2 separate regions of the Homo sapiens genome follow, and region 1 is linked to region 2. The links come from fine-mapping of genetic effects on gene expression. A gene starts in region 2. The other region holds a variant in brackets. All regions are shown on one strand. Distances are between the middles of the regions.

Region 1 (15,445 bases), 410 kb before region 2:
TCAAGACAGAGTCTTGCTCTGTCACCCAGGCTGGAGTGCAGTGGTGTGATCTCAGATCACAACCTCCATCTCCCAGGTTCAAGCAATTCTCCTGCCTCAGCCTCTCAAGCAGCTGGGATTACAGACATGTGCCACTACACCCAGCTAATTTTTGTATTTTTGGTAGAGACAGGGTTTCACCATGTTGGCAAGGCTGGTCTTGAACTCCTGACCTCGTGATCCACCTGCCTTGGCCTCCCAAAATGCTGAGATTACAGACGTGAGCCACCATGCCCAGCCTATCTTTTTCATATAATGACTTCTTTTCCTCTGGGCAAATACCCAGTAGTGGGATTGCTGGATCAAATGGTAGATCTATTTTTAGTTCTTTAAGGAATCTCCACACTGTTTTCCATCATGGTTGTACTAGTTGACATTCCCACCAACCTTGTAAAAGTGTTCCCTTTTCACCACATCCATGCCAACATCTAAAATTTAAAATTAAAAAAAATTTTTTTTTATTATGACTGTTCTTGCAGGAGTGAGGTGGTATGGCATAGTGGTTTTGATTTGCATTTCCTGATAATTAGTGATGTTGAGCATTTTTTCGTATGTTTCTTGGCCATTTGTATATCTTCTTTTGAGAATTGTCTATTCATGTCCTTAGCCCACTAATTTATGGGTTTGTTTGTTTTATTCTTGCTGATTTATTTGAGTTCCTTGTAGATTCTGGATATTATAATAGTCCTTTGTTGGATATACAGATTGCAAAGATTTTCTCCCACTCTGTGGGTTGTCTGTTTACTCTGCTGATTATTTCTTTTGCTGTGCAAAAGCTTTTTAGTTTAATTAAATCCCATCTATTTATCTTTGTTTTTGTTGCATTTGCTTTTGGGTTCTTGGTCATGAAGTCTTTGCCTAACCCAATGTCTAGAAGGGTTTTTCTAATGTTATCTCCTAGAATTTTTATGGAGCCAGGTCTTAGATTTAAGTCTTTGATCTATCTGAAGTTGATTTTTGTATAGGAGAGAGATGAGGATCCAGCTTCATTCTTCTACATGTGGCTTGCCATTTATCCCGGCACCATTTGTTGAATAGGGTGTCCTTTCCCCACTTCATATTTTTGTTTGCTTTATCACACATCAGTTGACTTGTAAGTATTTGGCTATATTTCTGGGTTCTCTATTCTGTTCCATTGGTCTATATGCCTATTTTTATACCAGTACCATGCTGTTTTGATGACTGGCTTTATAGTATAGTTTGAAGTTGGGGAATGTAATGCCTCCAGATTTGCTCTTTTTGCTTAATCTTGCTTTGGCTATGCAAGCTGTTTTTTGGTTCCATTTGAATTTTGGGATAGTTTTTTCTATTTCTGTGAAGAATGGTGGAGGTATTTTGATGGGAGTTGCATTGAATTTGTAGATTGCTTTTGGCAGTGGTATTGTTTGACTCTGTGTCCCATCCAAATCTCATCTTGAATTGTACTCCCATAATTCCCACATGTTGTATGAGGGACCCAGTGAAAGACGATTTGAATCGTGGGGGCAGTTTCCCTCATACTCTTCTCATGGTAGTGAATAAGTTTCATGAGATCTGATGGTTTTATCAGGGGTTTCTGCTCTTGCATCTTCCTCATTTTCTCTTGCTGCCCCCATGTAAGAAGTGCCTTTTGCCTCCCATCATGATTCAGAGGCCTCCCCAGCCATGTGGAACTGTAGGTCCAATTTTTCTTCCCAGTCTCGGGTATGTCTTTATCAGCAGTGTGAAAACGAACTAATGGCCGGGCACGGTGGCTCACGCCTGTAATCCCAGTACTTTGGGAGGCCAAGGAGAGTGGATCACAAGGTCAGGAGATCAAGTCCAACCCGGCTTACGTGGTGAAAGCCCGTCTCTACTAAAAATACAAAAAATTAGCCAGGCATGGTGGCGCACACCTGTAGTCCCACCTACTCGGGAGGCTGAGGCAGGAGAATGACATGAACCCAGGAGGCGGAGTTTGCAGTGAGCCGAGATCACGCTACTGCACTCCAGCCTGGGTGACAGAGCAAGACTCCGTCTCAAAAAAAAAAAAAAAAAAGAAAACCAACTAATACAGTAAACTGGTACCCATTGAGTGGGGCACTGCTGAAAAGATACCTGAAAATGCGGAAGGTACTTTGGAACTGGGTAACAGGCAGAGGTGGCAACAGTTTGGAGGGCTCAGAAGAAGACAGGAAAATGTGGGTAAGTTTGGGACTTCCTAGAGACTTGCTGAATGGCTTTGAGCAAAAGCCTGATGACAATATAGACAATAAGGTCCAGGCTGAGGCGGTCTCAGATGGAGATGAGGAACTTGTTGGGAACCGGAGCAAAGGTGACTCTTGTTATGTTTTAGCAAACAGACTGGTGGCATTTTGCCCCTGCCCTAGAGATTTGTGGAACTTTGAACTGAAGAGAGGTGATTTAGGGTATCTGGCAGAAGAAATTTCTAAGCAGCAAAGCATTCAAGAGGTGACTTGGGTGCTGCTAAAGGCATTCAGTTTTATAAGGGAAGCAGAGCATAAAAGTTCAGAAAATTTGCAGCCTGATAATGTGATAGAAAAGAAAAACCCATTTTCTGAGAAGAAATTTAAGCTGGCTGCAGAAATTTGCATAAGTAACAAGTTGCTGAGTGTTAATCCCTAAGACAATGGGGAAAATGTCTCCAGGGCATGTCAGAGGTCTTCACAGCAGCCCCTCCCATCACAGGCCAGAAGGCCTAGGAGAAAATGGTTTCATGGGCCAGGCCCAGTGTCCCCGCGCTGTGTGCAGCCTAGGGACTTGGTGCCCTGCATCCCAGCCACTCCAGCCATGGCTGAAAGGGGCCACCATAGAGCTCAGGCCATGACTTCAGAGGGTGCAAGTCCCAAGCTTTGGCAGCTTCCATGTGGTGTTGAGCCTGCGAGTGCGCAGAAGTCAAGAACTGGGGTTTGGGAACCTCTGCCTAGATTTTAGAAGATGTGTGGAAATGCCTGGATGCCCAGGCAAAAGTTTGCTACAGGGGCGGGGCCCTCATGGAGAACCTCTGCTAGGGCAGTGCAGAAGGGAAATGTGAGATCAGAGCCCCCATACAGAGTCCCTACTGGGGCACTGCCTAGTGGAGCTGTGAGAAGAGGGCTACCATCCTCCAGACCCCAGAATGGTAGATCCACCAACAGCTTGCACCGTTCACCTGGAAAAGCTGCAGACACTCACTGCCAGCCCATGAAAACAGCCAGGAAGGAGGCTGTACCCTGCAAAGCCACAGGGCAGAGCTGCCGAAGACCATGGGAACCCACTTCTTGCATCAGTGTGACCTGGATGTGAGACCTGGAGTCAAAGGAGATCATTTTTGAAGCTCTAAATTTTGACTGCCTTGCTGGATTTCAGACTTGCATGGGCCCTGTAACCACTTTGTTTTGGCCAATTTCTCCCATTTGGAATGGCTGTATTTACCCAATACCTTTTACCCCCATTGTATGTTGGAAGTAACCAGCTTGCTTTTGATTTCACAGGCTCATAGGTGGAAGGGACTTGCCTTATTTCAGATGAGACTTTGGACTGTAGACTTTGGGTTAATGCTGAAATGAGTTAAGACTTTTGGGGGCTGTTGGGAAGGCATGATTTGTTTTGAAATGTGAGGACATGAGATTTGGAAGGGCCAGAGGTGGAATGATATGGTTTGGTTCTGTGTACCCACCCAAATATCATCTTAAAGTATTATTATTATTATTATTTTGAGATGGAGTCTCGCTCTGTTGCCCAGTGTGGAGTGCAGTGGTGCAATCTCAGCTCACTGCAAGCTCTGCCTTCCGGGTTCATGCCATTCTCCTGCCTCACCCTCCCGAGTAGCTGGGACTACAGGCGCCCGCCACCATGCCCGGCTAATTTTTTGTATTTTTTTTAGTAGAGATGGGGTTTCACCATAGTCTCGATCTCCTGACCTTGTGATCTGCCTGCCTTGGCCTCCCAAAGTGCTGGGATTACAGGCGAGAGCCACCGCACCCAGCCCATCTTAAATTATACTCCCATAATTCCCACATATTGTGGGAGGGGCCTAGTGGGAGATAATTTGAATCATTGAGGTGGTTTCCCCCATACTGTTCTCATGGTAGTGAATAAGTCTCATGAGATTTGATGGTTTTATCAGGGGTTTCTACTTTTGCATCTTCCTCATTTTCTCTTGCCACCGCCGTATAAGAAGTGCCTTTCACTTCCCGCCATGATTCTGAGACCTCTGCAGCCATGTGGAACTGTAAGTCCAATTAAACCTCTTTTTCTTCCCAGTCTCGGGTATGTCTTTATCAGGAGCATGAAAACAAACTAAATACAGGCAGTATGGTCATTTTCACAATATTGATTCTACCCATGCGTGAGCATGGGATGTGTTTCCATTTGTGCTGTCTATGATTCCTTTCAGCAGTATTTTGTAGTTTTCATTGTAGAGGTCTTTCACCTCCTTGGTTAAGTATATTCCTAAGTATTTTAATTTTTTTTGCAGCTATTATAAAAGAGATTAAGTTATTGATTTGATTCTCAGCTTGGTTGCTATTGGTGTACAGCAAAGCTACTGATTTGTATACATTAATTATGTATCCTGAAACTTTGCTGAATTCATTTACCAGTTCTAGGAGCTTTTTGGATGAGTCTTTAGGGTTTTCAAGGTTTATGATTATGTCATCAGCAAACAGAGACAGTTTGACTTCCTCATTACCAATTTGGATGCCCCCCGCCAAAGGATTTTTAAGACTAACCTTATCAAATCTTACAATAGCAACTAAAAGTATAGGAACCGCACATTTCAGACCAAGAATTAAATCAGTGGCTGTCCACTGTGGCAACCCATGAGTATCAGGAAAGACAAATGCCTAAACTTCACCCAGAAATTTCAAATTAGGAGGCATGTGGTGAGGCCCCGCAAGGAGCCACCAGCAGGAATGAAGAACCACTGAGTTAAATCCCAAAACTGTATTCATACCCTACTTCCAACCCATTCACCCCAAACCTTTCCCAGGACCAAAACCAGCCTCTAGTGTGTTAGCACGGTTTGGCTTTCCTCCAGGAACTTCAGTTTTTCCAAAAGTTTCTAACTGTAAATTCCTCACCAGGACTTTACTTGCCCCCTCAACCGAGGCATAAAAATAGGACGATTTCCACAAACAACACTTATTTAGAAATAATGTGCCAGAGGAATGATTTGGGTTGGTTTTTATCTCTGATTCTTCCCAGTAACTCATCCACTAAGAACCCTGCCCACAGGAGGGTCTGATCCAACGGGGGGTTTGAGGCCACTCAGCTCAGCCTGGTTCCCAGGGCCAGTGTCCCACTCCAGAGGCCAAGTCCATGCTCCCCTCCCCTCAGCAGGCCTGTTCCTCCAGAGCTGTCCAGTCTCTCTGCCAGGCTCCAAATTCTCCATCTTCAGTGTATTGACCAAACAATGAGACAGGAGGACAGCTGGGAGAGCGGGAGTCTGAAATCACTGGTAGAGTGGCCCAGGACACACACAGGAGAGAGTCTCCACCGCTGCTGAGATGAAGGGACTCTCCATTCTTCTCAAAAGGCTTGCTGTGTTTTTGGCATTCCCCCACCTGACTTTTTTTCAAGTGAGTTGTTCCGATCTGACCTCAGAGAAGGCCAAACTGGGTGCTGTGGGGGAAGGGCAGAAAGAAACAAAACATGCTTGTAAGAAGTAGTTCCATAATCATAGCAGCTGCTGTTCATTGAGCTCTTCTCATGAGCCCGGCCCAGTACTGAATTTCATATGCATTATCTCATGTGATCCTTACCACCAGGAGGTAGGTATTATTATTGCCTTTCTAAGGATAAGGAAACTGAGGCTCAGACAGGCCAAGTTACTGCCCAAGACCATCTGGCTGCAACACAGAGTTAGAATTTGGACCCAGGTCTGTCTAACTCCACAGCTTGTGATCTTAACCTCTGTGTGTACAGCCTCAGAAAGGGAAAACAGCAAGGTGCCACTACATTTACATGAATTTCATCAATTCAACAACAAAAAACAAAGGCTCTTTGTTACCCCTGCTCCCTATCAGAGAACACCTTTATAAATGCAGTCTCAAACAAGTGGCCTGCAGTCCCAAATTCACCAACAGCCTTATTTAACTTGGCACATCATATTTTAAAATAACTTGACTGGCCCCTGCCAGCCTTTGAGTTTGCAGCCCAGGCCTCTTCTCTTACTCTATTGGATCTAGATCAAGAGGACAGGAATGGTGTTTTCAACAGAATCAAAACCATAATCGCCTAGCATTAAACCTGGGGAAGTTAGCTGTGAAGACAATTGTTCCTCCTGCATCATCTCCACCTCGGAGACGTTCTGCAAACAGTGCCACCCTGGCTGGTGACCCACTCAGCAGTAGCCACAAGGCAGCTGTATCAGCAGGTCTCCAGGAGCCAGGATGAGGCCTCGCAAGTTACTGCAGCATCACATAACAGTATGGGAGAAAGATACAGAGGGAAAATGATTCCATTCAGCTGCAACTTCAGGGTGGAGTTAATGTTTCACTCGGTGGATCCAGGCCAGGCCTCTGATCTCACACTTCCCTGGCAGACCTCTCTCTGCTGCAATCAGCTGGGAGTCATGTGTCCTCAGGGCTGGTACGATAGGAACAAACAAAGCCCATCATTCCACAAGCAGAGGAGGCCAGCCTTCCCAAACCCACAGAACACTGCTCCTTAATAGGCTGGGTGCCTATAATTAGTCTACAAATAGCACCGTGCTCATCGCCAGCTCACTCCTTTTGTCCCTACCCCCACTCACTGCACGCCCCGAGGTGCCTTTTCCAGGCACTGCAGTTCTCTAAGGGGCTACAGAAGTCTAAGCAAAGGGAAATTAGGAATCAGACTCCAAAATATTGTATGAGATCCAGCATGCAGCCTGCCTGGCAGTTAGGTTATGAGAAGGTATAATAAGTCACAAAGTTAAGAAACAAAATCTAAGCATTGGAAGGAACCCTACTTTGACCTTTTGATAGCAAGGAAAACGACTCACAGCAACACAATACTTGCCCAAGGATCTTATCCTATTTATCCTATTTTCTTTGTTGTTGTTGTTGTTTTGAGACAGGAGTCTCGCTCTGTTTCCCAGGCTGGAGTGCAGTGGCGCGATCTTAGCTCACTGCAACCTCCACCTCCCAGGTTCAAGCAATTCTCCTGCCTCAGCCTCCCAAGTAGCTGGGATTACAGGTGCCCGCCACCATGCCTGGCTAATTTTTTTGTATTTTTAGTAAGACAGTGTTTCACCATGTTGGCCAGGCTGGTCTCAAACTCCTGACCTCAAGTGATCCACCTGCCTCAGCCTCCCAAAGTGCTAGGTTTACAGGTGTGAGCCACCATGCTCGGCCTTTTTTTTTTTTTTTGAAACAGAGTCTTACTCTGTCTCCCAGGCTGGAGTGTAGTGGTGGATCT[C/T]GGCTCATGTAACCAACGCCTTCCAGGTCCAAGCAATTCTCGTGCCTCAGCCTCCCAAGTAGCTGGGATTATAGGCACGCATCTCCACACCTGGCCAATTTTTGTATTTTTAGTAGAGAGGGAGTTTTGCCACATTGGCCAGGCTGGTCTTGAACTCCTGGCCTCAAGCAATCCGCCCACCTCGGCCTCCCAAAGTGCTGGGATTTCAGGCATGAGCCACCACACCCGGCCGTGTTTTCTTTATTAGATTGAACTGATGAGGCAAAAGACGTCCTCCCTGCCCTCAGTAAAAGCCACTCTTCACTTCTTTTCACCACTAATATAAATAATCTCTGGTGATAACCTTTAATCCTTGAGCTTGGGTAAGAAAGTTTGATATCACTCTTCTATCCAGCAGAACTTCAGTTTCTCAGACTTTTCTGCTACTTAGAAAAATCACCGCCCTCAGCAGCCTCCCTTGGGCAACCCAGCCACGCCCACCACCACCACCACCTGAGCCTCTGACACCTGGCTCAGCTGAGGCCAGAATCATTCTCACCATGGTCATGTAGGTGGCCTCTGATTTTTCACTTGGTTCTTCTTCCTCGATCACCTCCCGTACAATTATTGGGGAGTAAATGTGTTTCTAGAGGGGGAAAATGGTACAAAAATTCCTAAAAATTAGATGAATCTTATACACCAGAGAAAAGGCCACCCACTCCTATTTGCTAGGCATCGACCACCCAAACTGCTGGTTCAGAGGGTTACTGAGACCTAGAGAATTCTCAACAATGATAATTCAGTCTTCAGTCTTCTTGAAAATTAACTGTCAAAGAACACAGTCTTAAGAACCAAACTCTTTGCTTCAAAAGCCAAACATCTTTGTTTAGATGGATGTTTAGGTAGCAGCAGGGGTTCCTTATCTTGCTAAATTCCTTGTATTCTGGGGTTATTTCCTTCTAATTACAGTAAAGGCAGAATGGCATTAATCAGCAGTGAATTGTCATCATCTCCCTCAGAGGATTTATGTGGCAGGGCCAGCCCTCATTGAACCTCACAACTGTGAGGTTCATGGTCCTGTCACTCGTTGGTAAAGCAGTATCATCCAGTGGCCCATTCTTGGACCACTGCACTCTACTGGGAAAAAATCCTACTCTTGGGACAAAAACAGCCCAAAATAGAGAAAGGTAACTATTCAAAGAGTTTTTTTAAAATTAAAGAAAGAAAAGAAAGAATAGGAGTTAAAGAAAACCAATCAATTTCTCAGTCTCTAGAAGCAATTATTTATAACTCCATTACAAAATCAATATGGAGAGAAAAGTCCTTCTTAATCCTTTCTTGCTAAGATCTTAGACTATTTCATTTTAAGCATTAGAACTCCTTAACTCCTGGATGTATTATAATTCTCCATTAGACTTTAGACAAATAGCACCTCCTAGATTACAAAGCATTTGCATATCATCATCTTATGTGAACCTTACAACAACCCTGTCAAGCAGGCTGGGCAACTATAGTATCTTTATCTTTATCCTCATTTTGCTGATGAGACTCAGGGAGGTGGCAGATCTTACTGACTCCAAGCGCAGTGCTCTTTCCTCAGCCCAATACCAGGATCTGCTGCCTGGGGCTGTCCCAGCCGACCCCATGCACTGTACTCCGCAGAGGCTCTTACTTTAGTGACAAAGGCTTCCTGAGTCCCTGCTCTGTGCCAAGCACTGGCCTGCAAGCTGCGACATACAATGGGTAAGATATGGTTCCCGGGGGTATGAGAACGGCCCAGGCCTGCATCTACTTAGTGTTTTAGGCTGAAGCGTGTGTTCACCTCCCCTTCACATCTTTCAAAATGGCAGGGTTTTTCTTTTATCTCTGGATTAGTCTTCTTCGTGTTCTTCACCAAGACTGTAGAATTCACTGAACTGCAAGACATGAAAAGCATGTGGAATTAACCAGCGGGCATGGTTTATTCAAGGGTCCCTACATGAGATCCCCTCTTGGCTTCGTGAAGAGAGAGACACCAGAGAAGGAACTATTCTCTCTGGACTCCTACAGCCAGGGCTACCCGGCTCACCTGGAAACCTGAGAAGCGCATCTCTTCTAATGAAGAACAAGAAGCCGTTCTGGAGATAATTTAGGCTGAAAAGCAGCTTCAACTTCTCTATTATCACTCAAGCCACTTTCAGTCCGTATGGGAGAGGTAATTTTAAGTGAATGAAGAGAGAGAGGGGAGATGGGATTCCATTTGACCATCCTGTCTACATTTCTGAGGACCAGGGAGTGCCGCGAAACCAGCAGGGGGCAGCAGGAGCTCAGCAAGACGCCAATCCGAAGGGCTCCTGGCCTTTCCGGGGGGCGGAGCAGAATAACCCCCACAAACACCCGACCCAAGCCCCAAGCAGGAGCTCTGCGCCTGCCCTGTCGGGGTCCCTTGGCCTTTGATCTCATGACCATTTGCCTTCTGAACATACTTTCTTTTTTTCTATTTTGGCCTAAGTCAGAACTAAAAAAAAAAAAAAAAAATTCAAGGTTTAAGCTAGAAAAGAAACCATATGTTTTGGTCTCAGTGGAAATATTTTCCTTGTATTTTCTGCTTTTAAAGTTGTATCTTCTCACTGTCAAATAATTCAGATAATACAGAAATGTAGACAGTTGGAAGTGGAAGTTCCCTGCAACCCGTCACCCCATGGGATCCACCTTCTCCTTCACTTCAAATTCCACACAATTACCCACATTTTACAACTGTCCTTCCAAGCCTCTCTCAGTGTAAGCATAAGCTCACATAAAATGTATTTAGTACATATGCTGCTGGAGTGAGCATCATATTATTTTCTCTTTTATAAAAATGAGGTCATACCATAAATTCTGTATTTTTACTCCTTGGATATCTTTCCATGTCATTATGTAGAGGGATCTGGAGTGTTTCATTGACTGGTTCACTGAATCGTTGCCTTTCTGACAGACACTGGCAATTATCCCTATTTTTAATTATAAGCAAGACGGCAGTTTTGCACAAATCTCAGCATATCCATTTAATTATTTCTTTAGAATAAACGACTAGACATGGAAGTGCTACCTTTCCTTTGGCGGGAAACTGAGGTCCCGACAGGGGAAGTAAGCTGAGAGTGGAATCCAGGTTGTCTAGCTCAGTGCTCCGAGCATGCCCAGAGCAAAGACCTTTAGAGAGGCCAGCCAAGTTCAAAACCAAATCAGGAAGCCCTAGGGAGTGCAAGTGAAAACTTAGCAGGCACAAGTGTTTTCTGCAGGATCCAAGACCCACTGGGAAAGAACACTCAAAAGTCAGGACTATTCATGAGGCCCTTTCCCACTGACACTATTTCAACAAGGGAGTCGATCTGCACTACAAGCATACTCCATCGATAGTTGGATAAACTGAGGGACATGGATCTGCCAACAGCCAGTGAAACACAAGTGTCCCTGTTGGAGCATCTGGGCACTTCTGAGACCCTGGGAGAACTACCGATGAAATTCAGGCCTTTAAAAGCACATTATTATTATTATTATTTTTTTTTTTTTTTTTTTTTGAGACAGAGTCTCGCTCTGTCACCCAGGCTGGAGTGCAGTGGCGTGATCTCGGCTCACTGCAAGCTCCACCTCCCAGGTTCACGCCATTCTCCTGCCTCAGCCTCCCAAGTAGCTGGGAGTACAAGCACATGCCACCACGTCCAGCTAATTTTTTGCATTTTTAGTAAAGACAGCTTTTCACCGTGTTAGCAAGGATGGTCTCGATCTCCTGACCTCGTGATCCGCCCGCCTTGGCCTCTCAAAGTGCTGGGATTACAGGCATGAGACACTGCGCCTGGCCAAAAGCATCTTTTAATAATAATTCATTTAGAACCTGAGGGCACCCATTCAAAGATCGTATCTCATAATTAGAATGTGGTCTTTTAGATAAAACCACTGGCAACCCTTAAGATCTTAGCTTCTATGCGGAACGTACAGTATGGATAATTTAAAAATCATCTTTTAGGCAGTGAATGGTACCATGATAGTTCTTGTGTAAGATTTATGCTCTGAATTATGCCCTACTGAGGCCCCCATTTCTAAGGGAGTTTGTAGTCTTTACATAATAACAAAGTGAATGAGGAGAGCGTAGGAATATTAAATTCTTTTCCCGGGCACAGTAAGCAAAGTGGGCAGGGTTACCACAGATGATTCCATTTAAAAATACCCCCTTCTGTGAGAATGGCATAAGTAGGGCCCTATCACCCTGTTCTACTTTGGGGTAGAGGCAGCCTTGCACCCCCAGCCTCCCAATCCAAGGGGTGGGGGTAGCCCTGTACCTCTTATTTCCACAGGTCTTCTTCACGATCAATATCAGAACAGGGAGCAGCAGGATTGTGGCACAGACAATTCCCACAATGATCACCAACTGATTACCACCCAAGACCAGAGGCCTCAGGGCTGCCGGGGTCACCAGTGCTTGGGAAAGTAGAAAAGCAAGGAGAGGGTCTCAATACTTTAGCAAAGAGCTGAGAGCCCCACAGCCCTATACCAAGTAGCACCAGCCAGGCCACGAAGCGGAGGGGAAGGCCAGACTCCACCCCATATCTGGACACTAGGGACACTGTCTCCATGAGATTGAGAACCAAAGTCTAACCCCCTCGTTTACCCTAAAATGTAGATTAAGGTGGGTGGGAGAAGAGGCTAGCAGTTCACCTCTAGTAAAGTTTCCTTTCACATCAACAATTCTATTCTAAAATTTGGCTTAACAAGGACCCAGAAATAACAGGCATTTGAGAGGCTGCTGATCTTCCTTAGGGCAAGTGGTTGTCTTCAAAAGAACTCATGCCGCAAGACTCAGCCCCACAGTGACGATACCAAGTAAAGCCTCCGGAGGTACTTCTGCCCATATGGAACCTTCTACTCATCTGCATGGTTCTTTCTAAATACATAAAGCAAACACCTCCTCAGGGCCAGACAGCACTAGGTACAGGGGATTCAGAGATGAATGATGATGTGTGGTCCCTGCTTCCAAGGAAGAAGACAAACACGTCAACAGAAAACCACAGGCTGCTGTAGGCGCTACAACAGAAGTCTGTATGGGGAACAGAGGGGCACAGAAAAAAGGGTGTCCAATTCTATATGCAGCAAGTGAGAATTTGCCAGCAAAAGTTCTAAAGTTTAACCTAAGACTTACAGGAAACATCCAGTTTGTTGGGAAGACAATATGGAGAAGGACAGAGGGGATGTTCTGCATGAGATCTGGAGGCCTGACAGGATGATGATTTTAGAAACTAGAAAGAGTTCAACGGGTCTGGCACAAAAGTGGCATTTGTGGGTGTGCTGGAGAATTTCGCTGGAGAGATGACAGGGTCCAAGTCAGGAAGGACCTTGACTATCTCAACCAAGAATCTGGCATTTTTCTGCAGGCAATGAAAACAACATTGAAAGATTATTAGCAGTGGAAGAGAAAGTTCTTAATGTGATTTAGAAAGATGGCACCAAGAGCCGCGTGAAGAATGAGGAGCAGTGGCTGAGAGAGAAAGCAGAGACTGGTTAGAGGCCTACAGTTCAAGACAGAGATGAAGACAGCCAGAACTAAGGCGGCAGTGACAGACTGGAAGGAAGACAACTTCAAGAGTCTGTAGTAGGAGTCAAGGACTTGTTGACCTGACCTGTTAGATTAGGGGTCTAGGAAAGGGAAAGAATCAAGCACACCCCCAGGCATCTAGTTAGACAACTGAGGTTGGGGAGATGGGCTGAGGAGGGGTGTGCAGGGGTAGGTTAGACATGTTGCATATGAAGGATTTGTGGAAAACTTGTGTAGAGTTGACTAAGTATATCCATGGGTGTGTGTGGAACTGTGTCCAACATAGAGTGCATATAAATGCTACTGAAGGAGAGAAGGCTGAGGATGGATAATTGCAGTGCCATTGGTGATCTAAGCTGGAGTAGAGGTAGAATAAGCCAGAATGCAGTGCACTGAGGAGTTAATGGGAGATGAGACAGTAAGATACCAAACACAGACCTTTAGCAAGCTATTTGGCTATGTTGAGAAAGAAACACGTGATTGTGGTGGTGGTTGTTCAACTCTGAATGTACTAAAACCATTGAGCTGAACGCTTTAAATGGGCAAATTGTATGGTATGTGAATTGTATCTCAGGAAAACAATCTTAAGAAAAAGAAAGACACAGAATGGAGCTGAAGAAAAAAAGACATAGAATGGAGCTGGAGTAATTAAGTAGTAGAATTGAGCAAACGTATCCATTGAATGGTAGAAACCAACAGAAAGTGAGCTCAAAGAGCCATGTTGTAAGGTTCCTGAGAAGGATACCACCTGGGCACAGGGGGCCAGATAAGCCCAGAGCAGAAGGGACCTTCCTCTGCCTCAGGATGGCAGGGCAGAGATAAGAATGGGGGAGACATAGATATGTTTGTGGGTGGAGAAGCTGCATGAGCCCCCATAATGGCTCGATTTTCTCTGTGAATTGGACTTCTGAGAAGGAAGCACACAGACCTGCCGTGCTCCCCTCTCCAGCTGGAGACAAGGTGCCTCCACAGACTTAGGTCTCTGGCCTGAGGTATGAGGTATGTTCCATCCTCACCCCATCTTCCCCACCCCCAGCCAACCACAGCCAACTCCTGAAGGCCCTAGCGACAGGCAAAGTCCACAGGCCACATCCTGATTGCTAACTGGGTTATGGTTTAACTTTAACCCCTCACTTATCAACCTCTCTCTGTCAACACAATCAAGTCTTTCCTCTCCTACACAGCACTGGCCTTGATGCACACTGTTTGCCAGAATCCAGAACCTCTGATCAGAAAACCCTCCATTTTTGGTTCTGGTGCCTGCATGTTCCTCTCTGTTCCTGGCTGTCTCTCACTAGCTTAGGATCATTTCCCGCTCCACTCTAACACATACAGCACCTCCCTTGAAACCAAGTATGCTGACTTTGGACATCAACTCCGATCCTTCCCTGAGCTTCTGTATCTTTACATCAGTAGATGACCCTGGCAATGAGTGGGGTCTGGCAGAGGATTGGTATTCACTAAATTAGCTCCCCTCCCCTTGGCCTAGCAGCAGGGCCAGAACTAGGGTGAGGCAAGCCAGGCACCTGAGGAGCCACCTCTAAGGAGGCATCATTCTCAGGGTTGTGCAAGGCCAGAGTCAGCACCTGAGAGGGATGCCTCCTTCAATTTTGCATCCTAGGAACCTCTCCGGCCTCACTCTAGTCCTGGCGCCATGCACCAGCCAGGAGGTCCCTCAATGCTCCCCAGCCAAATGTTAGATACTTCGAGGCTCTTCCGGGCTGACATGCAGCACAATGGTTTTCTTGAACACCAGGTTCCCTAGGTGGATACTGCAGGTGTAGTTTCCTCCATCTGACTCCCTCACTCCTTGAAGCATGATGGAACCGTCATTGCGGAAAATGTCCCCCACCAGGTTCACACGATTCTGGAAGTGGCCCCAGCTCTGGGAGTACTCCACAGACATCCTGAGTTTGTGGTAGTAACGAAATACAATCTCCTCCTAGAAGTGAAAGACAAAAAGTATGATATTGTGAGGACTGGAGTGGAGCGGGGAGCAGAGAAAATGGGGGAGGGAAGATCTCAGGACTCCAAGGCCCTGCTAGGTGAAGGCAGTAAGGGTATTATCAGAAAGCATTAAATAACACAAAGTCATGTACACACACATGTGCATGCGTGTGTACTTGTGAAGGACATCACAAAACCATGAACAGTTTTTCCATCTGAATGGAGGGATAAGAAAAGGAGGACTTTCATTTTGTGCACCTTTCCAATAAAAAAAAAGCAAAAGTATACTTTTATTCTTGATGACATTTCTAGTTGGATTTCCAATAGGAACCTGAAACATGTCTAAAACTGAACTCTTCATCTTTCCCCCAAACCAGTTCTTTCCAGTCCATCCCATTTTGGTACATGGCAATGCTTTCCTCCAGATACTCAGGCTAAAAATCCTGGAGTCATCCTTAATTTCTGTCTTTCTGGAACAAATCACATTGAATCCCTCAGCAAATCCTATCACCTCTACCTTCAAAATATATCCCCAATCCAGCCAGTCCTCACCTCCTCCACTGATACCAT
Region 2 (15,445 bases):
TATTTTTAGTAGAGACAGGGTTTCACCATATCGGTCAGGCTGGTCTCGAAATCCTGACCTGAGGTGATCCGCCCACCTCAGCCTCCCAAAGTGCTGAGATTACAGGCGTGAACTACCACGCCTGGCGGATTTTTTTTTTTTTTAAGACGGAGTTTCACTCTTGTTGCCCAGGCTGGAGTGCAATGGCGTGATGTTGGTTCACTGCAACCTCTGCCTCCCAGGTTCAAGCGATTCTCCTGCCTCATCCTCCTGAGTAGCTGGGACTACCGGCATGCGCCACCACGCCTGTCTGATTTTTGTATTTTTAGTAAAGACGGTATTTCACCATGTTGGCCAGGCTGGTCTCAAACTCTTGACCTCGTGATCCAGCCACCTCGGCCTCCCAAAGTGCTAGGATTACAGGCGCGAGTCACCGCGCTCGGCCCGGATCATTATTTTTTAACTCATCATTCTTCCAGTTTTTATTGTTGTTGTTGTTTTGAGACGGAGTCTTGCTCTGTCACCAAGGCTGGAGTGCAGTGCGATCTCAGCTCACTGCAGCCTCTGCCTCCCAGGTTCAAGTGATTCTCCTGCCTCAGCCTCCCAAGTAGCTGGGACTACAGGCGTGTACTGCCACACCCAGCTAATTTTTTTTTGTATTTTTAGTAGAGATGGGGTTTCACCATGTTGGCCAGGCTGGTCTCTAACTCCTGACCTCAGATGATCCGCCCACCTCGGCTTCCCAAAGTGCTGGGATTACAGGAGTGAGCTTCCACGTCTGGCTGTTCTTCCAGTTTTTTAATTTGCATTACTAGGACCCAGTTTATATTATTAATATTCCCCTCTTTTTGACTTGCTTGTTGTTCTGGCCCTACCTTAGCTTCCCATATGGTCTCCGTCTCCCCTGTAAATGCTTAGAAAATTGCAGCTTCCTCCCTTGAATGATTCCAAAGAGCAGTTCTCTCTCCCTATCCTGTTAGTGACATAACCCCATCAGTGTTGGAAGCAACTGTATTGAACTCAAGACATTAGATAGAAATGGGTAAATTTTCCTATTGGGGCTATTCAAAGATTAGGACATTATAATTGCTCTCCCAAAACTTCATTAGAAAATACGAATCAGTGGTTCAAGTGTTGTATTGGTGCCGTTATAGGTACCATTGTTACATGTAATTAATTAAGCTGGACATTTATTTATTTAAAAAGGAAAAACCTCATTGGACCAGCCATGCCTAAAAAATAAGTATGATAGAGCAGCTTACTGGGACTTTTAACACGAGACTTTGAGAGCAGAGCAAATGAATAATGTGAAGAGCTAGAACGTTGCCTTTTGGGTCAGAATGTTAATATATCATCCTGATAGAATGTCTATGAATTTCATAGGTTATACAGGGCAGGGCTGGGCTGTGGCCACTCATTTTGGAGCTTTTACTTAATACTACGGAACATCTCGTCCCAACAGTTGTCTTTTCTCCATCTAGAAGAAAAGCAGCTTAATCATTTTGGTGGGGAAGAGTGATGCTGTGACTTTCAGTTGTGAATTGAACATTTTTCTAGTATTTTACAGTTACTTTTAATACCGCTTTTAGGGAAATTGATATGTTCTGTAATGAGAATGTAGTCAACATGATGGAGACTCAAACCTCCTGCTTTACCTTACTCTTTGTTTATTTTCCTAGGTTACCAAAGTGACCCAGGTAGATGGAAACAGCCCCGTCAGGTTTTCCACAGAGACCACTTTCCTAGTGGATAAGTATGAAATTCTGTAATACCAAGAAGAGGGAGCTGAAAAGGAAAATTTTCAGATTAATAAAGAAGACGCCAATGATGGCTGAAGAGTTTTTCCCAGATTTACAAGCCACTGGAGACCCCTTTTTTCTGATACAATGCACGATTCTCTGCGCGCAAGGACCCTCGACTCACCCCCATGTTTCAGTGTCACAGAGACATTCTTTGATAAGGAAATGGCACAAACATAAAGGGAAAGGCTGCTAATTTTCTTTGGCAGATTGTATTGGCCAGCAGGAAAGCAAGCTCTCCAGAGAATGCCCCCAGTTAAATACCTCCTCTACCTTTACCTAAGTTGCTCCTTTATTTTTATTTTATTATTATTATTATTATTATTATTATTTTTTGAGATGGAGTCTCACTTTGTAACCCAGGCTGGAATGCAATGGCATGATCTCAGCTCACTGCAACCTCCGCCTCCTGGGTTCAAGCAAGTCTCCTGCCTCAGCCTCCGAGTAGCTGGGACTACAGGTGCACGCCACCACGCCTGGCTAATTTTTTGTATTTTAGTAGAGACGGGGTTTCACCGTGTTGCCCAGGCTGGTCGCGAACTCCTGAGCTCAGGCAATCCGCCCACCTCAGCCTCCCAAAGTGTTGGGATTACAGGCATGAGCCACCATGCCCAGCTGCTCCTTTATTTTAATCCCTAAATATAATCCCTAAATATAGTTATATTTCATACTTAGTTTGTTTTTAAAAAGTTTTCTCTGTAGAAAATTTTAATCATTCATACCCTTTACCTTTAGGTTTTTCTTTCTATACATTCAGTCAGGCACTGGGATCATCTGTTTACAGGCATTATATTTATTTGGCACTCCTGGAACAAGTATATCTAACCCATTCTTGATTTTTGGACTATTCAGGTGAACTATTTGAGGGGTATGGGGTCTAGAAGTTAAAAGATACGCATGTCTTCTGTTCTTTTCCCGTATCAATTCATTCCTTCATCTCTTTGCCAAGTTGTTTTCCTTTCAGGGCCTGTCCTTCCAGTTTAGAACAGTACCATGAATCCCACTTGTGTCAATATTAAAGATAGCTGAGAAGCACCTTTCAAATGGCACAGTCCCTCTTCAAGATGTCTAAAAGAATGGTTATGTCTGTCCAGTTAGGGATTTCACATCCACATGTAATCATGTCTGCTGCTGTTGCTACCCAAATTTTCATTTCTCCACATTTTGGGTACTTAAGCTAAAACGTAATGGCCACAGTCTGTAATCCATTCACATTCCTCAGTTTCACCACCTCCCTCTTCCAGACTGCACTCTCTGTCATCAGTCCCCTCCTTTCTAACAGAAATGGGGTTATGATTTTGAAGGCTGTGGGTTCAGGGAGTCTTTGCCAATCCTGTTGGCCCTAAACTATCAAGGAGGCTCCATTTCACCATTTGATTTTTTGCATTTCAGGAGGCAACTGATTGTTTCGATATGTACATATTACTCACGTATACCCCATTTCCTTCCAGTCAGCCCAACATTTTCCACCAGTCTGTCCCCATCTCTGAAATCCTTCCTTCTCTTTCCCCCTAAGTCTTTTGAGTGTCATCATGTACTGGTGGTTTCTCGGTTCCATCTCATCCATTTCCTTTTCAATGGAGACTACAGCGTCAGCCAGCTCAGCCTTGGCTTTTAACTCAATATTCCAGTCCATAGGGGTGGTTAAAAGTTGCTGCAAGGCTGCAGGCACTGGCAGTGGGAAGAGGCAGACGACTAGATGACTTCTGCACTTTTAGCTGGTTGAAAAGTACCACTCCCACTCTGAACATCTGGCCGTCCCTGCAAAGAGTGTACTGTGCTTGAAGCAGAGCACTCACACATAAATGGCTGTGTGTGGAATTGCTTGCCAAAGAAGTTTCTAGCCTTTCCCTTTCCCCTAACTGCATCAGGGAAGAATTCTTATCTCTAGCTTGGTTTCCACATGAGGTTTTTCTGAGAAGGGCTTGGGACAAGAAGTCTGTCATGTTAGTTAAGCAGGCAAGAAATCCTACTAATCCAGTTTTGTTTGAAAGTTGTTTGTCCGTATGATTTTTTAAAAGTCAAGTTTAATTTCAAAAAACCTTTTTTTTCTGAGATTACTTTTGGGGTAATATTTAAAATGAGAGACATTTTGTAACCCTGTAAAATACATAGGGAATATAACATTCCAGTGTATACAAAGAAGGCAAATTCTTTAATCAAATAAAGCGCATTATAAAATGAGATGTTTATTGGATTATTGACTCACTTTGGTGTCTGCTTGTTGATTCAGGATGCTGTAATGGGACCTAACATTAAAAATTAATGACATGTTTTTTTTAAGAGAAAGTAATCTGTGAGAGTATTCATTGCCTTTTTCCATCTTATATGTATTGTGCTTCCTTGCGTATTTTTCTACATTTGATACATGCACTCCTGACAGTGTAGCTTTTGAATTTGATGCTACTTCTGGCCTTTTTGGGGATTGGAGTCTTAATTTTGTCAGACGGCAGTTGGAGAGTCAAAAAAGTCAGGCTTCATCTTTAATCTTGGAGTCTTGGAGTCTTCTCTTCCCCATTAGACCGTGATGAGAAGTGATCCAGGGATGAGGGATAATGGGAACAATTTTTGGGAACTGTTGATAATTCCCTCAGATAAACCTGCTTACTTTTTTTTTTTGAGATGGAGTCTCGCTTAGCTGCCCAGGTTGGAGTGTGGTGGTGCGATCTCAGCTCGCTGCAACCACGGTCGCCCAGCTTCAAGCGATTCTCCTGCCTCAGCCTCCAGAGTAGCTGGGATTACAGTCACCCGCCATCATGCCGGGCTAATTTTTTTTGTATTTTCGTAGAGACGGTTTCACCATGTTGGTCAGGCTGGTCTTGAACTCCTGGTCTCAGATGATTCGCCCACCTCTGCCTCCCAAAGTGCTGGATTACAGGCGTGAGCCACCGCGCCCAGCCTTTTTTTTTTTTTTTTTTGAGACAGTCACCAGGCTGCAGTGCAGTGACATGATTTCGGCTCACCACAACCTCCACCTCCAGGGTTCAAGTGATTCTCCTGCCTCAGCCTCCTGAGTAGCTGGGATTACAGGCATTCCACACCACCACCCCCGGCTAATTTTTGTATTTTTAGTAGAGACGGTTTCACCATGTTGGTCAGACTGGTCTCAAACTCCTGACCTCGTGATCCGCCCGCCTCAGCCTCCCAAAGTGCTGGGATTATAGGCCTGAGCCACCGCGCTCCGCCAGAGCTGCTTACTTTCTTATGCTTTTTTAAAATTTAACTTGGAAAAACTATTGGGTGTCAAAAAATTGGAAGGCAAATTATTCTCACTTATTAAGTATCTGGGATGAGAAATTTCTAATGTTGAAAGCCAAGATTCTGATTTTTTTTTTCTTGGTGAAAAAAAGTATCTGGTCTAATGTTGCTCAAGTGTGGCTTAGCTGTCTGAGACTGTAGCCTTAATCGAATGAAATGATTAAGGTCTGTCATTCCTTTACTCACCATAGCTTCAAATTTGTCAACCCATGCATCTCTGATGGGAAACTTTGCCCTCCAATTAATTTTTAAATTGTGAACAGTTTTAAAGTTGTTCACACTGGCTAGGGTCTGAGATTTCCAGGGTTGATATAGAATAGCTTTTTATTAAACTTCACATCTGACAGGGCTTATTGGAAGGAGACAGGAGAAAAATGGAAAAAGTCATCCTCAAGAAGATTAAAGTCTAACTGGAAGCAATGACTATCTGCTTGTGAAGCCTTTTTTTTTCCAAGTTAGACAAGTGTTAACTACAGCTAGTACTAAACATGGATCTATATGAGAGTAGGTAACATGGCTTCTGTCTTGTAGGCTCTAGAGGAATCTCAAGCAAAACCTCACAAATGATTTTCTTTTGCTATGCACATCTGTCTTATTACAACCCCCTTACCCCCAATTCCCTTGTCCTAGAAGATCCACAAGTAGGTTGGTTGCTGTGCATTGCTGTTACCCAAGGGCAGACAGCAACACTACAAATAGCTGCCTTAACGTCTTATCCTGGGGAGTTGGGGATTGATACGGAGGTAGGCCTTTAGAAAAATTAGACTATCTTTCCAAACCAGGCTGTTTTCCCTCTCACAATCACAAGTCAAGCTATTAGGCAGTTTTCAGAAGCTTGGACCACTTCTCCCATCCCCCACCGCAGTTTTTTTGCCCTGCTGTTCTTAGGGCAGGGGCTAAGTGGTTATTTAGGGTCTAAACCAATACTGGAAAGCTTCCCTAGGTTTACTCTGGGTGATCAGATTGATTACCAAACCAGGACAGGGGCTGTTTGAAAGAAGCATTAGAAATTCAAGACAATGAGAGAAATTGAAATAGGTCTTGTCTCCCATTCTTTTGCCCAAATGAATGCTTGTTCTTTTAGCTCATTAGGAAAGCCCTTAGCCTTGGAGGTACACAAGACCAGTCTTCTGTCCTACCCAAATTTCCCACTTAGCTTGGATGCATGTTAGCTTTGGGTCGAAGCAGACTATGCAATTTCTAAGACAGCTGAAAAGAGAGCTTTGAACTTTTCCCCAAGTTGCTGCAGGGTCATTGCTACCACCACGCCTACACCAATGATGCCTGACTTCAGGATCCAGAGGCCAGAAACGGACAGCTTTCTGGAAGAGGGTGTGTATCTACAAGGATTGCTTGCTGTATGAGCAATAATCACCTCTCTGGGGCTAGAGGGAGTACAATTTGAGAGGTGGGACAAAGTGGGGAATGTGCCAAGGCAAAAGCAGGAGTATGGAAATTCACTCCTGACACTTGTAGCCAATGCAAAGGGCCTTAGAAAAATCCACTCTTCCTTCCACACCCAGGCTTTGCCCTCTCCCCCTGCTTCCACTTCGGAAAGTCTGAAGCAGGCCTGGAAAGCTGTTTTCTGCTTTCTTTCCCTCTCTTCCTCCCCCTTTCCTGAGCTCCCAGCTGCTCGACCTCTTGCGTAACTGTGAGAGAGCGCTGAGTTTTTTGATGGGCTCCAGATGTGGAGCAGGGCGGAGATGGAGAGTGGGGGCGGTAGGTCTTTAGTCCCCTGAGTGCTCTAACTGTGGGAACATAGAGGCCTGACACAGCAGGGGAGAGGACACATTGCACAGCGCCTTTATCATAGGGTCAGCTGGTCCCTGTGTTGGGAGGTCAGTGAGAGAAGTTGGGTGCTGTTTCGACCCTCTGCCTCAGCATCCACTGCCTCCATGGCAGGCTTGATTATTCCCTGAAATTCCTCCTGCCCAGTACAGTAAAGAGGAGCTGGGGGCCGTGAAACAGAATGAAGTGAAAAGCCTCTGAGGTACTGCAATCTGGACCCCTCCCCTCAGTGCTGGGTCTTGGCACATGGGATACAACAGTTTGGGTTTTTTCCTTCTTCCTTTTTTTACATACCCAAATAGCCTGAATATTACTGTTGTGATCTGCCTCATGAAGGTTCATCAGAATTACTTTCATGACTTCAAACAGTATGAAGAGAGGAAAAACTAGAGTCTCGCTCCTCAAATCCTAGGACTTCCTGGTACCCACAGCATATTCTGGATCTTGAGTGTTCCACCTCCATTAGCTATAGCAGGTGGCAGCAAAGGGCGGCCTCTCCCCTCCCCCTCCTTGTCTGCTGCTTGGCCCCGGTCAGCTTCAGTCTCCAGCCGTGGGGGGTCCCCTGCTAAGGCCAGCCCTGTCAATGAGTGACCAGAGATTCCTGTAGTTCAGCCTCCTGCTGTTCCTGGGTTAGGGAGAGACGGCACAAACTAAACTCATTGAATTAGAACAGCACTTGTCCATCTCAAAGAGGATAAATTATTTTTTGCTATCCACCCCAGCTGGAATTTAGACCAGACTTACAGGCTTTCTGCTCCTTCCTTCAGTGAAGAAGAGTCTCCAGGGTCCCTCTAGTGCAGGTCAAAGAAGTCCAGTCCAGCTGAGTTCAGCTCCCTAGGGCCTCCCCAGCCAGTCTCCTGGACCAAGAGCTGGCTTTGCAAGGTAAGGATCCACTGTCAGCGTTGGATTTCGGAGTGGAGGTTGAGATGGAGAATGACTTCAACCTAGCTCAATTTGGGGGCTGCTTTTAGGTGTTTAGTGCCTCCTTCTCTTCCTTATTAACTCCCACTCCTACTACAGGTTGGTGTGCTCAATTGTATGTCTATAGCCTGCCTCCATCTCCCAATCTGTAATCCAGCAAGTCTGTCGGGGTGGAGGGGTGTGGAGCTCCATGGGGGCAAGATGATAATTCCATTCGGTTTTCCTGTGCTTTGGAGTTTGCATGACACTTTAACGAGTCTTCTTGTGCCTATCCTTAAGAAAGTCTGTGAAGCCTGATGTGCGTGGCTATCAATGTCATTTACAGCTCTTCATGGTGGGGCTTGGAATAGGGCGAGGGGAGGAGGTGACAGGGAGAAGACCTGGGTACCCTCAGTAGATGTTCTGGAGATGTTGAGAGCATGTTGTAGGGGCTTCGATTTGGGAGGTTCAGTGGGAGCCCGTGGAGGTTTCAGGCATCTAAGGCAAAAAGAAAGAGGGGAGAGTTTGGGGGAGGGAGAACGGATTGTCAAAAACACCCTCTCAAAAGCGTGTTAAAGCCTGGGAGTGGAGGGTGGTCTAGGAGAGTCGGGAGGGCAGGGTGGGAGGAGAGGGGGATGTGTGGTGGTGGTGGTGGTGGTGGTGGTGGTGGTGGTGGTGGTGGTGGTGGTGGTGGTGATGGTGGAGAGCCCAGCTGCAAAGATGAACAAAGCGGGCGCTGTGCAGGCTGGGGGAGGTGCTGCTGTGGGAAAGGGTGGGTGGGGGGACCTTGGGCTCCAGCCCCACAAGGGCGTCTTCTTTGGCTGGCCAGGCGGACGGGACGGGGGACGGGGGCGGGGACTGGCGGGAGGGGGGCGGGACAGGCTCGCTCTCCTCCTACTTAGCGAGCTCCCGGGGAAAAGCAACGGTGTCCTCCTAAGCCTGAGGCCACCGCGACCGAGCCGAGCCAGGCTAAGGGACCAGTGTCTCCCTGCCCCCCCCCCACCTCTAGGTAAGAGCGCCCCGTCCCACTACACTTGCGGGTCCCATTCGCTGCGGTGCTAGGACTGGATAAGGGGAAGTCCCCGGGGCCTGGCGAGAGCCCTGAGATCAGCTCTAGGCTAGGGAGCTCGGCAGAAACCCGTGGGGGAGAGAGGGCACCCCAGGTGAGTGCGTGGGGGCGAAAGGAGCGTTATGGGGAGTTTTCCTGTGAGCCTCTTGCTTTTGCCTTCCTCGGCCGCTGCCAACGCCACCGCCAGAGGGGGCCGTGACGCTCTCCCCCCCTTGGAGAAACTCTGATCCTGGCCCTATCCAGACTCTCCCGCCGGCACCCAGGCGGCCGGGCGGACACTCGCGGGGTATCGGGCGGCGAGCGCGCGCGCGGGTTTTCGTCCTCCAGCGCCCCACACCTCCCCCTCTCCGCCCACAGCAGGACCTTGGGGCGGGGGTATCTCCTGTGACGTCTCCCCGCCTGTCCCCAGGCCGGCCGCCTTGATGGACCAGGAAGGGATTCGGAGTCCGGCTCAGAGTCTTGAGCGTCTAGGAGGGCTGCCTGGGGGTGTCCAGGAGATGGGAAGCCCGCCTGGGGCCTCCCAGGCACTCCCCAAGGCCCCACGTCCTCGGGGGCCGGGGAGGCCGCCTGGGGCGCCTTGCCACGCCCGCGCGGTCCCTATTGGAATCCCTAGCGGAGTTCCCCGAGCGGAGGCTGACCCAAGTCATCCGGGCTCCCCCGGGATAGGGAAGTGCGGGCGGGCGGCTGGGTAGGGGCGCCGGCGCAGGGTGGCCGAGTCGCCCGCTAGCGCTTCCGCCGAGGCAGGCTCGAGTGGGGACTTGGCCGGGCGACCGCACAGCCCTGCCGGGGACCCACGGCTCTGGGGCGGGGCTGCATTCTGGGCCGTTAGCTCAGCGGTCCTGGAGCCTCCCGAGGCTGACTCATCGGGCGGCGGGCTCACCCCCCAGCCGTCAAACGCAAACGCAGGCGCCCCACCACGCCGGGCTCCCACGCGGCACACACGCACGCCTCCGCGACACTTCGCACACCTACGTCCCTGCGTCACGCCACCCAGACACACCCGGACCCGCCCACACGCCGAGGCCTTCCCACGCACTCCATGCCTTACGCCTCACAGGAAAGCGCCCCGCGCTCACGCAGCCCCTCACACCCGCAGCCCCGCTTACACGCGCCCCAGCTCACACATGCACCCCAGTCACACAGCCTACCTCACACACGCACCCCAGTCACACACACAACCCAGCTCACACACGTACCCGTCACACATGAGGCCCCAGCTCACACACGAAGCCCAGCTCACACACGCAGCCCCAGCTCTCACACACACACCCCAGTCAAACACGAGGCCCCAGCTCACACACGAAGCCCAGCTCACACACACTGCCCCAGTTACACAGCCCAGCTCATGCAAGCAGCCCGTCACACACACAGCCCAGCTCACACACACAGCCCAGCTCACACAAGCAGCCCGTCACACACACAGCCCAGCTCACACACACAGCCCCAGTTATACACACACAGCCCAGCTCACACACGCAGCCCGTCACACACACAGCTCAGCTCAATACACAGCCCAGCTCACACACACAGCCCCAGTTACACACACAGCCCAGCTTACACACACAGCCCAGCTCACACACACAGCCCATCACACACACAGCCTATCACACACACAGCTCAGCTCAATACACAGCCCAGCTGACACACGCAGCCCAGCTCACACATACACTCCAGCTCACACACGCAGCCCGTCACACAGCCCCAGCCACACACACAGCCCAGCTCACACACGCAGCCCAGCTCACACATGCAGCCCCCTCACACATGCAGCCCCAGTCACACACACAGCCCAGCTCACACCGCAGCCCCAGCTCACACACGCGGCCCCTCACACACATTCAGCCGCCCTTCCCGCAGCTGCCAGGCTCGGAACGGGCGGTGTCTGTGGGGGCCGCCCCGTTTCCCGGCCGCGCAAACAAGCGGCTCCTTCTCTCTGCCCCGCCAAAGAAAGGCCGCTTGTCAGGGGCGGGCGGGCAGGCGGCAGCGGCAGGCGCCCAACACTGCGGCCTTGTCCCACGCGGGCAGCCTGGGCAGGAGCAGGCCGAGGGGTGCAAGGGGCCGCTACCTTGCGGAAACCTCCCTCCCTCGGCCCTGCGGACCGCGGAGAGGCACCTTTCCACCACCGGACACCCAAGCAACAGCCCTCGCTCCATCCGCGCTCTCCCGGCTCCCCCTCTCCTCGGGCCGCCCATCTCTCCTCTCTTCCGCCTTTGGGGTCCCGGTGGGCCCCAGCCTCCCTCTCCTTCGCCCCATCTCCCCGCCCGTCAGCCTCCCCTCCGCTGCCCTCGCGCATCCCCAGTGTTCCCGTCTGTCGTCGCCTCCACTTGAGGACCCGCCTGTCCTTTCTTCCCCCGACCCCTCCACCTCTGTGTTCTTCAGTCTCCCCGCATCCTCTGCCCTCGGTCTTCCCCTCCCCAGCTTGCATTTTTTCCCATCTCTTAGTCTGCCTTTCATTTTCCCCTTCACATCCCGGTGGCTCCCCTTCCCCGCCCCGTCCCTCTGCACACCCCCATTCATCTCTGTCAGGTTTTTCTCATCCTTAAGTTCTCTCGTCCCCCTCCCCACTCGGGCGTCCCCCGCTGGGCTCCCCGCCTCAGTTTCCTTCCCTTCCTGACTCCTTCCTCTGACGGCGGCCCTTTCTCGAGGGCGGATGTGCGCCTGGAGGGCGAAGGCGGCGGCCGAGAGGACCCCAGCTCGGCCTGGCGGGCCTCTGGCCACAGCCATGCACCGCTTGGGCCGAGGCCGAGGCCGACCCCCAGGGACACAGGTGAGGCCGGGCGACCCGCGGGGCTCCGGGGAGCGCCCGAGCAGTGGCCCCGCGAAGGGCCGGGTCTGGTGCTCTGGGGCTGGCTTTGGACCTCTCGTCCTGGGACTCCGTGGGAGCCCGGGAGCTGTGTCAGTGCCCGTTGGTGCTGGAGCCAGTCGGCCCTTCCTTGGCCTCCTTCAGGCGGGGGCCAAGACCCCCGAGAGTTCACTCTGGGTGCTCCACTCGGCGGAGAGGGCTTCAGACTGGTGTCCCGCGTGGCTGGGGTGTCGGCGCATTCCCGCGGGGGAGGAGGCCGAGGGCCCGGGCCGGGGTCACCTGCCGGCGCCCCGGCCTTGCGCACAGAGGGCCTTGCCTGTCGCTCGTCAAATCCAGACACCTGGGCCTCCGCCACTCGGCTGCCGGGGCGGCACTGGGGCGTCTGTACCCAGCGTGCGGGAGGGCACCCAGGGCCGGACGCGCACCGCAGGGGTCTTTTTTTGGCCGCGGGGCCGGGCGGGCGGGTAATGACAGCCGGGTTGCTGGGGAGCCGCGGGCCAGATGGAAGCGGGGCCGCAGGTGAGGGACGTCCCTCGCGTAGCGCCACTCAGCCGCCGGGGCCAGAGCGGGAGTCAAGGTGAGGGCGCCCCCAGGTGGCCGCTCTCGGCCGCGGCGATCGCCCTTTGGGAAAGCACCGCCTGAGTGCAGGGCAGGTTGGCCTGGTGTCTCTTTCCACTTCTCTTGGATCAGGTTACTGTGCTGGGGCCACAGCCTCGCACCTCCCAATCTCTCCATCTTTTCTTATCTTCTCCCCACACCTCTCTCCTTATCTCTCCCTTTACTTTCGCCTCCTTATTCTCTTCTCTCCTCTAATCACTCTTGTTCTCCATCGGCCTTACTCCTTTACAATCTTTATCTCCACTTGAAGTTCTTGGGTGTAAATAAATGAGCACACCACAGCTGCCCCACACGGCGATAGTGACCAATACTCCAATATGACAGATAAATAAACTAACGCCCAGACAGGTGAACTGCCTTGCTCCAGGTCACACAGCTCATAATAATAAACGGGGCCAGGCGCGGTGGCTCACGCCTGTAATCCCAGCACTTCGGGAGGTCGAGGCGGGCGGATCACCTGAGGTCGGGAGTTCGAGACCAGCCTGACCAACATGGAGAAACCCCGTCTCTACTAAAAATACAAAATTAGCTGGGCTTGGTGGCAGGAGAATCGCTTGAACCCGGGAGGTGGAGGTTGCGGTAAGCCGAGATAGCACCGCTGCACTCCAGCCTGGGCAACAAGAGTGAAACTCCGTCTCAAAAAAAAAAAAAAAATAATAATAATAATAATAAATGGCATTAAGTGCTTTGCTTTCACAGAATGCCATTTAATATAATACCTGAATTTCAGACAGTCCTTTTTAAAAAACTGACAGCTTTATTGAGGTATAATTTATATACTATAACATCCACCCAATTTAAGTATGCAATTAAAAGATTTTTAGTATATTTACAGAGCCATGCAATCATCACAATTTAATTTGAAAACATTCCCCCCACCCCACCCCCACCAAACTTGTGCCCTTTTACAGTCACTCCTCATTCCACCCCTAGCCCCAGGCAAGCACTGATCCAGACAGTCTTTTTTATTTTTTTCCATTACTCTAGTTTTATAGAAGAATAACTTGATAATCAGAGAAGTTAAATAACTTGTCTAGGATCTTATAGCTAATAAATAAATAAAGTCAGGGTAGAATTTAAGGCTTTATATATCCCAGTCTAAAGTTCTTTCTACCAAAGGATGATGTTTCTCCTTCACCATTATTTATTATTTTGTTTTTCTTAACCCCTTTTTTACATAAACTCCCCATTCCCAACCCACTCTCTTGCCCCTCCTCCCTCAGAAAATGCTGAGGGATTTCCCTGAGTCTAAGGAAGCAGTACAGCAATCTTTGTCCTTGGAAATTCTTCTCCATGGCCAGGAATTCTGGGGAGGTGCCAGGCCAGCTTGGGGCTTTGCATAGGTTAATGGCGTTTTCCCTCCCCTCTTCCCTGGCAGTCTTGGGGTGGGCCCCAGCCTGGGTTCCGGCCTCTCTTCCGCCAGCTTGGGTGGAAATGGTGACGGAGATGATGCAGTCCAGGTCCGGAAGGGTGGAAGCTGGGAGGGTAAATTTAGTAACACCATAGCTAAGGTCCTCGGGACCCACTGCCAGGGTCAGACACTCCTTGGAATGCGGGCTGCTGCCCCTACTTCCTTTCCAAGTCCCCTGGTAGATGGCTTGAAGAGAGAGTGGAAGGAAACCCTGTTTCCCTGGGTCTGCCTCCTTACCCCTCAGCCACACTCTTAGCTTTCCCCAGTAACATTTCAGCAGCAAGTGGGAAGTTTCTCAGCTTAGCTAGTTGGCCAAGGGATGGGCATGGGGGCATACATTAGTACACAAAGGTCCTCACATCTCAGATACCAAAAACATGAGCCAGGGAGAGAGGGATGCATGGTGGGTGAGGGGCAGTGGGGTGGTGGTGGGGAGTATTCAAGTTCTGGCTCTGGAATCTGTCTTACTCCTGGTTCTAATGGTTTAAGCTTCCTATAGCACCTAGCCAATTAAGAACCCAAGAGTTGAGCCCAATATTCCCAGTATTAGTTATCACTAAAGTTTTTTGTTTTTAATTAAAAAAAATTTTTTTAGCTGATTGTGTTGGGTTGAGGTTGCTTTCTGGGGAAGAAAAGGTGTAGGAGTTGAGACATCTGGAGATAGCAGGAATGGCTGAGTTTTTCTTTTGTGTCTCCTTTAAGAAAACATCCTACTAAAGCCCTGGGAAAAGAGACAAATGGTGAAGAGGAGAATGAAAGGTTGCAGGAGGGAGCTCCTGTTTTAGCCCTGCCACCTACCTGGGGGCCCTCTGGCTACCAGTGTCCTTGGAGGGGCTTCCTTGCTGCTTCTCCCACTAAGGTAGATTTTCCCCACCCTGCTTAAGGCTCCACAGGGCCAAGGGTCTTCAGCTGTCAAAACCCGGGTTCTGAGTAGCATAGGGCAAGAAAGCACAGAAGTATAGATTGGGCCCTATGGGACTGTTTGTGCTTACAGTGGCAGGGGGCAGGACTGGTATCCATGCTGTGGCTGGCTGGAGACTTGGCACTGCTCCCAGACAACTCCCACCCAAGCTCTTTAGCTGCCTCTATTTCCCTTCAGCATGAGCATTTGGGGAATGATGGTGACTGGTGACACCTCTGCCCTGAGAACCCTGCCACAGAACCTACTTCTTTCCCTCTCCTGCCCTGGCCTCCCCACTCACCACCTTTCTGCTGTGTCCCTAGGAGCTCTGGAGCCTTAGGACCATGGACGCTCTCAATAGGAACCAAATAGGCCCTGGATGCCAGACCCAGACCATGGTGCAGGTGAGTGGGATCAGGGCTGTGAGGCAAGAGAGATATAATAGGGATGGGATCAGCTCTTCTACCCCCTTGTGGTCCCAGCCCAAGGATGAAAGGAGCAATTCTGTTCCTCTCTGCCCTTCCCCAGGTCCCAAGCCTATTAACAGCTCAGTCTTTATCTGAATCAGGTTAATTGGTTCACCCAGAAACTACCCATCGAAAGTCCGAAAGCAGTTTACAGATTGACCCTGGGCTGTATCACTCTCCTTGATCCATGCCTCTATCTTCCCTGTACTTGAGCTTAGCAGGGGCAAGCAATGGCCACGTGGATAGCCATGGACAAGTCTGCAGGGAGCTTGATTGGCCTTCCTCTACAGTACCCCTGCTGCTTATCCAATGCCACCCCCACCCCCCACCCCTTTCTCCTTGCTTCTGTTTTAATAGACAAAAGGCACAGTTAAGCCAAGACTTGCGATAAATCCAGTGGGATGAGTTAGTGGCCTAGATTCAGATCTAATTACAATTTAGTGGAATCATGC

Direction of the effects. Positions count from the first base shown, and alleles are read on the strand shown. Sizes are in standard deviations (SD) of each study's normalised expression.
For the expression in monocytes after LPS of the gene that starts at base 8,649 in region 2, T is the high allele of the variant in region 1 and C is the other (large effect, 0.85 SD a copy in Kim-Hellmuth 2017).

Evidence for each region. PIP is the estimated chance that this variant, and not a neighbour inherited with it, causes the effect.
Region 1: its variant is fine-mapped to the expression of PHLDB1 in monocytes after LPS (Kim-Hellmuth 2017, PIP 0.95).

The regions. Positions count from the first base shown.
Region 1 is chr11:118,188,796-118,204,240 of GRCh38, forward strand. It overlaps JAML (junction adhesion molecule like), which reads right to left. Exons shown (of 10, transcript NM_001098526.2): 6 at 14,633-14,870; 7 at 11,679-11,817; 8 at 9,203-9,296; 9 at 7,940-8,026; 10 at 4,930-5,622. The coding sequence ends at 5,530. Among named protein-coding and RNA genes, the nearest start is that of SCN2B, 20 kb to the left of the region's middle. RefSeq lists an enhancer at 5,469-5,658. The variant C/T (reference allele first, on the strand shown) is at 7,402.
Region 2 is chr11:118,598,967-118,614,411 of GRCh38, forward strand. It overlaps PHLDB1 (pleckstrin homology like domain family B member 1), which reads left to right and starts at 8,649. Exons shown (of 23, transcript NM_001144758.3): 1 at 8,649-8,733; 2 at 14,850-14,930. The coding sequence starts at 14,871. LOC124902765 (a long non-coding RNA gene) reads right to left here and starts at 9,545. Exons shown (of 2, transcript XR_007062908.1): 1 at 9,157-9,545; 2 at 3,933-8,222. It overlaps ARCN1 (archain 1 coat protein complex I subunit delta), which reads left to right. Exons shown (of 10, transcript NM_001655.5): 10 at 1,659-4,067. The coding sequence ends at 1,748. RefSeq lists a cis regulatory region at 5,686-5,881, silencers at 9,141-9,230, 9,291-9,360, 11,876-11,935 and enhancers at 9,488-9,782, 9,820-10,494, 10,495-11,168.